Homo sapiens: one gene and its partner. The protein of the gene in region 2 purifies or fractionates together with the protein of the main gene of each other region. This does not show direct contact. Each region holds a gene or a part of one and is shown on either strand. Other genes may lie near its edges.

Region 1 (3,600 bases), on a different chromosome or scaffold from region 2:
CATAAAGTTTTGTTGAACTTAATAAGTGCACATTTAAACATATACATACATTTAAAAATTTATTTTTTTAATGGCAAAGCCTGTTGATGCTTAAATTGTAACTGATGTTTGCCTAAAAGTGAGGACAGTTCACTGGGAGCTGAGGGAGAGGAGCCTACTCAGTGAACTCCTACCCAACCTCCAGGACCCATCTCAAATTGTCCCTATTCTGTAAAGCCTTCTCCCACCGTTCTGGTTGTAACCTAATGTTCATATTGCGGGGCATCTCTTCACAACAATCAATCTTCTCTAAACCAGGAGCTAATCCTAGAGGAATGCAGGAACTTGTTGCACGAAGCATTGGTTAGTATGTGCTTATTAAACACTCAATGGTTGCCTAAGACAGACAGGTACACACACTCACACCCTCACAGTCCAGCAGAAGACACTAATGCCCACCCCCAAACAGGATGTCAGTTCTTCTCAGGCAACAGGATCCAGGCACTTGGCTTATTATCAAAAGAGATCACTTTCAACATCCCAGCCCAAGCCTCCTCCTTTAACACAAATCACAGCCAGAAGAGATCAGAGCGGCCCAGAGCAAACTCAGTTTCCAGTGTCCACCCCAGGAGGCTCCCCAGTCCTTTTGAGGTCACCTCTGCCGGCACTGTCCTTGCCCAACCTAGGGGTGGGGCAGACCCTGGGCTCCCAGGAAACATTCAATCAGGTGTAATGTTTAAACTTGACTGCTCGGCCATCCCCCAGCGCTGGGGCTCCCTACCCTATAACAGTAAAGTCGCTGCCCTGGCTGGGGGAGGGCACCCACAGCCCCATCGCCTCTCTGCCCAGGCCTCCCAGCTCGCTCCTAGCCACTCCTAACCTTGAACCCTCTAGAAACCCAAGCCAGCAGGGGAAGCAGCTACAGAAACTTCACCTGCACAGGTCAATGTGGGTGAAGAAGGGCCGGAAGTGGTGTTCTGTCTAGTTCTGCAAAGCCCATATATGAAAAAAAAGAAGCTGGAGATACAGTTCCATGAAGAACACCTGTCTGTTGGGTGGATAGGTTGTGGAGGGGAAATTATGGGTGACTTTTTTCCTTCAAATATTTTTGTGCTTTCTAAGTTTCCACATTGAATAAATTCTTTTGAAAGAGAAACACACTTCATGTGTGGCACCGCCATACCCAGCCGCTCTCCACCACTGGAGTTTCTCTTTCACCTCTTCTCAGCTACCTCCCAGGTAGAAGCCTTGGTCCCAGTGTCCTGTGCCCAGGCAGGGTCGGAGTTGGGGGCCAGCGTGGGGGAAGGGTGGGGCTCTCGCCCTCTCCCCAGTTAGAGTCCTGATCCTGCAGGGGAGGGGCAGCTCCCTAAGCAAAGTGGCCGCTGGAGTTGGGTGCTTGCCTGACCCCACCGATCCGATCCGCACCCCTGGCCCCGCTTTCCCCAACTCACCCCCTGAAGCGCCGCCCACCATTCAATTCCCCTTGCCTCGAAGGTACTTAGGAAGTGCGCGAACTCACACACACACACACACACACACACACACACACACACAGAGTCGCACTGTCTCCTCCCCTCCCTAACCTGGGCCACCGCCCCCAAGAGCCCACGTACAAACTTCTCCAAACTCGCAGCGGTGACTGGAGGGGGTGGTGACGTCCCCCTAATGAAAATGCGAGCCCTCGCCCCACAACACACACACGTGTGGCGCCCCACCCCCTGGGCAACTGTAAACCTGGCCGCGGCTGGCCGCCCTGGGGCTTGGGGGCGGGTATCCAACCCCAGCCTCCCACCTCGAGGCAAGTGACAGGAACAACGAGCGGCCGGCGAGCGGGGGCGGCGCGGGGGAGTTGCCAAGTGTCGGAGCGGCGCCCCGGGCCCCCCGAGCGCCCAGCCATCCCGGGGCGAGCCTGGGCTGCGTTACCTTGCAGGTTCTGCACTCGGATGTCGCTAATCTGCCCGATGAGCTCCTCGCGTTGGAACCAGTCCCACTCGTGTGCAGCCATGAAGCGCGGGCGGGAGAGCCCGGGCCAGCGCGGCGCGGGCGGCGGGCGCGGAGAGCCTGGCTGGCGGGCGCGCGAGCGGCACGCACCCGGCGAGGGCGCCGCGGAGCTGGAGTCGCGGCGGGCGCGGGCGGGGCGCGGGCGCGGGCGGGGCGGGGCGGGGCGGGGAGGGGCGGGCGGCGCGGTCGGGGCCGCCCCCGCCGCGGGCTGGCGCGAGCGAGCGCGGGGCGGCGGGTGCGGGGCGGCGGGCTCGCTCTCACTCCCCCGTGCGGGGGCGGGGGCCCTGAGGAGCGAGGGGCGAGGGGCGAGGGGCGGGGCGGGGCGGGGCAGGGGCGGGAGGCTGGGTCAGGCCAGCTTGTGTTTTTTTTCTTTCCGGGGTGTTTGTAGGTTGGATTGTTTGGTTACAAACCGGCTGTGATGAGGCGCGGGTCCCGGCCCCCAGATTGTGATGTCTCAGGGGGCGGTGGGCCGGGTGACGCAACTGGGGGTGGGCCCGTGGGTCCCAGTACCTGGTCCAGGAGGCAGCGTCTCCCTCCCGTCCGGGATAAGACACCCCCTCCGCGGGTCCCCTGTCCACTCTGGAGAGGCAGCCCCCACTTGGAGGGACCAGGACCCGAGCCCTGCCCATCCCCGAATCCTGGGAGCCCTGCGTGGGGAGTGTCGAGGGCCTGGGTCGGGGGGCAAACTAGTGTGGAGGTAAAGTTGTGGGAGTCTCCAAAGTGCGGGGGGGCTGTGAAAGAAGGGCCTTCTTCGTTGGTTTAGATACTAGGAGCCTTTTCCGGTCCAGTAATGTGACTCCAGCTTCTAGGAAGGAACAAGAAGCAGGCCAACTCCTAGGAGCTGGGGTACGCTGTGGGGTCTCTGGCCACTGAGTCTCCAAGTGACCCTCTGTGGGGTCACTGGAAATTAGTGAAAATGCCAGGACAGAACTTCCTGTGGAGACTACTGAAAATGCCAGGACAGGCCTTCCGGTCCCCTCCCTCCCCACCTCCACTGTTGAACTCTAGAGAATTCCAGGATCTTATCCTGTTTGGTGCCCACCATGTGGTTTACACTCCTTAAAAGTGAGACCCTACAGTTACCGAATTTGCCCAAGGTTGAGGAATGACTTAGGAGCAGGAAGTCCCAGCCCCCTGCTCCCAGCTCAGTGCTTGGGCCCTTTCTGTGACAACTAAGGCCACAAAGAAAATGGCTTTAAATATTCAGTGTTCCAAGAGGGGGAAAAAAATGGACAGGGCTCACTGGGCATTTAAACACATGGGCCTGTGTGCATCGCTGCTCTGTTCACAGCAATGAATCCCGGAAACCCGGCTGCTCACTAATTACCCAGTAACTATGGAGGTCCCCCGAAGGACAGACCTGTGCCCTTGAGGCAGGGCCCTGAAGGAGGGTGAGTCTACCCTCCAGTCATCCATTGGGGCAGGGGCTATCGTGTGGCCCTTAAACAAGGAAAGGAGATTTCTAAAGTGGACTCCAGAAAGGAGAAAGTCAATTTGGGTTAAGGAACTGTGAATGCGGGTGGAGGGCAGCAGAGGTCTCTAAAGACTGACCTTGGAGCTGAGCCCAGAAGGAGGAGAGGAACCCCCACAGGGACAGCAGTTTGGGCGGGGAAAGGTGGG
Region 2 (3,505 bases):
AAATTGTGACAACATATATAAAGGGCTTGACCCAGAAGGCCTTCAGCAATGTGTTGCACTGAAAACTGCCAAATGCTGCAGAAGTTGCAGACACAGAGGAGGCCCAATCAGTGTCCTTTTTCATATTCACCTTTGAGCCGGGGGTGCCTGCTCAGGGCCTGGGCCACAAAAGGCACTGAGCAGAGATTTGTTTAGGAGGCAACATGAGGTAACAGTGAAGACAAGAGCAATTCTGCCTGCTTGCTGTAGGATCAGCCAAGCCTCCACTTTCTCCTCTGGCAGATGGAGATCATGGCAGTGCCTGCCTCATAGGTTGAGAGGATTCAATTAGGCAGGCCTGTGATGCAGATGCTGTGGGCTGTCCTGCCCCATCCCCTCAGCACTCACATTCCTGAGGGCCCGATGGCTTCCTACTTTTCTGTGGTCACAGGAGCATGCTGCTTAACACCTGTGGACCAGAAGTGCCAAGGAGGTAGCACTTCTATTAGCCAAAGACAGGAGTCAGAGCATAAAGATGCAGGTTCGGCCAGGTGCGGTGGCTCACGCCTGTAACCTCAGCACTTTGGGAGGCCAAAGCAGGCAGATTGCTTGTGTCTGGGAGTTTGAGATCAGCCTGGGCAGCATGGAGAAACCCATCTCTACTAAAAATACAAAAATTAGCCAGGCATGGTGGCGTGCAGCTGTAGCCCCAGTTACTTGGGAGGCTGACACAGGAGAATTACTTGAACCCAGGAAACGGAGGTTGCAGTGAGCCGAGATCATGCCACTGCACTCCAGCCTGGGCAACAGAGTGAGACCCTGTCTCAAAAAACAAAAAAAAAAACAAAAAAACCACACCTGGTGCAACTCAGGTGTGTTCCATGCAACCTCCCAGAACTCCCCAGCAGGATAACATACTAGTTGCCCACAATGGCAACCTGCTCATGAATGCACGTTTTGATTTCCCTCCCGTCCTCATCTCACATCCTCACTCCCCTCCTGGTGCCTCCTGGGATCACCTCCTAATTGAGTACTTGTTCTCAAATCCCTGTCTCAGTGTCTGCTGCTGGAAAGCCCAATCCAAAAGAGCGTGTAAAGTGCTTGACAGAAAGAGGACGCTTGATAAATGCTAGCCAGCTCACTAGTGTGAAAGTGTCATGAAGGCAGAAGTCATCCATCTGAATATGACTGTCTCCCCAGGTCCAGGTGCTGGCACAGAGGTGGCACCTAATACACATGTGTTGAAGAAATCAATAGACATGCTCCTCCCACCACCCTGTCCTTTCCCTCCCTCCCTTTCCCTAGTCTCACTCTCATTTCCCCCAGTCCCACATTTTCTTTCCTAGTGCTCTTTTTCTCCTCTCGTGGAGGAAGGATGCTCTGGGCCCAAATACCCCTTTGCTGTCCCAAAAGTTCCACTCTGGAAATGAGCCCCCCCGCAGCATTGTGACATCACCGTGCACTAGCCAATGGCTGCCTGCCTAAGCTGGGTCCCTGGTCTCCTGGGACTACTAGCCCTTTGTTGATAGGGAGAAGCCAACATCTCCCGCAGGACCCCCTAATCTTCAGGGCAGCTCCCAGAGCATGGATCCCTCCTGATTCCACTCAGCCCGATGTTCCTCACAGTCAAGCTGCTCCTGGGCCAGAGATGCAGTCTGAAGGTGTCAGGGCAAGAGAGTGTAGCCACGCTGAAGAGACTGGTGTCCAGGCGGCTGAAGGTGCCTGAGGAGCAGCAGCACCTGCTTTTCCGTGGCCAGCTCCTGGAGGATGACAAGCACCTCTCTGACTACTGCATTGGGCCCAATGCCTCTATCAATGTCATCATGCAGCCCTTGGAGAAGATGGCGCTAAAGGAGGCCCACCAGCCGCAGACCCAGCCCCTGTGGCACCAGCTGGGACTGGTCCTAGCTAAACACTTTGAACCACAGGATGCCAAGGCCGTGCTGCAGCTGCTAAGGCAGGAGCACGAGGAGCGCCTGCAGAAGATAAGCCTGGAGCACCTGGAGCAGCTGGCCCAGTACCTCCTGGCAGAGGAGCCTCACGTGGAGCCAGCTGGAGAGAGGGAGCTTGAGGCGAAGGCACGGCCTCAGAGCTCCTGTGACATGGAGGAGAAGGAGGAGGCAGCAGCTGATCAGTAAACGGGCCATCCTACCCATTTGCATGCTAAAATTCTCCCGGCCTCATCCTTACGTGTTCCCTGGTGACTTTTCCTACTACTTCCTGCTGATGTGGATGCGTCCACACCCCTTTTTGAACCTTCCAAGCAGCTGGAGGGTTTTTGGATCCCTGTCCCCTCTTGGGCCTGAGGTCCTCCCTCTGAAATGCAGAGTGAACCAACCCTCATCACCATGCTTCCCCTAGAAGGGTTCTGATCACCGGAGGGCAGCCCCAAAGGCCACAGTCCCCTCCTGTGCTGGCAGCTTTGCCCACACATACCCAGCAGCTCCCCAGGCTGAAAGCAGCCCTGGCCCAGGGTCTCCATGGTTCTAGGCAGACCCTCTTTCTCCTTCGGGACAGAAAGACAATGTGAGTTCATTTTCCTCCATCCTCAGACCGTGACATCTCCCCTAGGCTCCCCAGCAGCCAAGAGGAGAGGAATGTCAGGTAGCTGCCCCTTGCCTTCTGGGTGAGGCTGCCCCTGCTGTTCTCCTGCTTGTGCTTCCAGCTTAAGGGACAGGCACAGCAGAGGTGAGAGTGGGAGGAGGGCACGTACCGGGTGCCAGCCCTGGAGCCCTCAGGGAGACAGACACAGACCAAGAATAGCAGGAAACTGAGCCTCAGGCAGAAAAAAAGTTCAGCAAAGTCATACACTCCCTGTGGCCAGCGTGAACAGAGCCATGCCCCACCCTCCCAGACTGATCAGTCAGTAGGTATCACAGCTCACATTACCTGCCCAGCGCTGCCCAAGGCTCCCTGGAAGGAAAAATGGTATCTGTCAATGAGGATCCTTGCCCTCACAGAGCACGCAGCCTAGATGCAGAGAGCTGCTATACATGTGAAAAGTAAAGTGGTGACATGAAACTAGAGTCTAGTGTGTGTGACTGAATGCACGGGGCCTCACGGGGCCCTGGGTTCAGCATAGAGGGGCCAGTCCCCTGCAGACTACGAGGAAAGCCAGGCCCTTTACTCTGTTCTTTGAGTGAGAGAGTGGCCCTTGCAGAGGCTGAGGAGTCCCCACACTCTGTGTGTGAGTGGGAGGGAGTGGGGAGCTGTGGTCCCCCATTCACTGCTGAAGCCCCTGAAATGCTGTTATTGCAAAAGTTTCAGTCCTGAGTGATGGGGATGGAGGGAAGGGGTGGAGGAGAATGTCTTGAACAAGCAGGGCCCCCTTCCCTAGGAAGCATCCTGTCCTTGGCCTGCAGGGCCCCTCATCCTCTCTTCCAGTCCGAGTCCAGCTGTGTGGCCATGGGTAACCTGCTTTTCCTGTCTGATGCTCAGGTTTCCCACCTGTTGCATGGGCATCCTTATAACAGCATCTACTTACCCCATGAGTGTTGGTGACGGTTAGAGGCAAAGACTGTCCAAC

What was found.
Region 1: the proteins of UBL4B (region 2) and CLMN purify together in Homo sapiens (affinity purification with mass spectrometry; one large-scale study listed by BioGRID and IntAct). This does not show direct contact.

Annotation. Positions count from the first base shown.
Region 1 is NC_000014.9:95,317,809-95,321,408, forward strand, and holds the start of CLMN (calmin), read right to left. Parts: upstream 2,101-3,600; 5' UTR 1,985-2,100; coding exon 1,903-1,984; intron 1,799-1,902; exon of another isoform or gene 1,453-1,798; coding exon of another isoform or gene 1,431-1,452; intron 1-1,430.
Region 2 is NC_000001.11:110,110,943-110,114,447, forward strand, and holds UBL4B (ubiquitin-like protein 4B), read left to right. Parts: upstream 1-1,500; 5' UTR 1,501-1,592; coding exon 1,593-2,117; 3' UTR 2,118-3,005; downstream 3,006-3,505.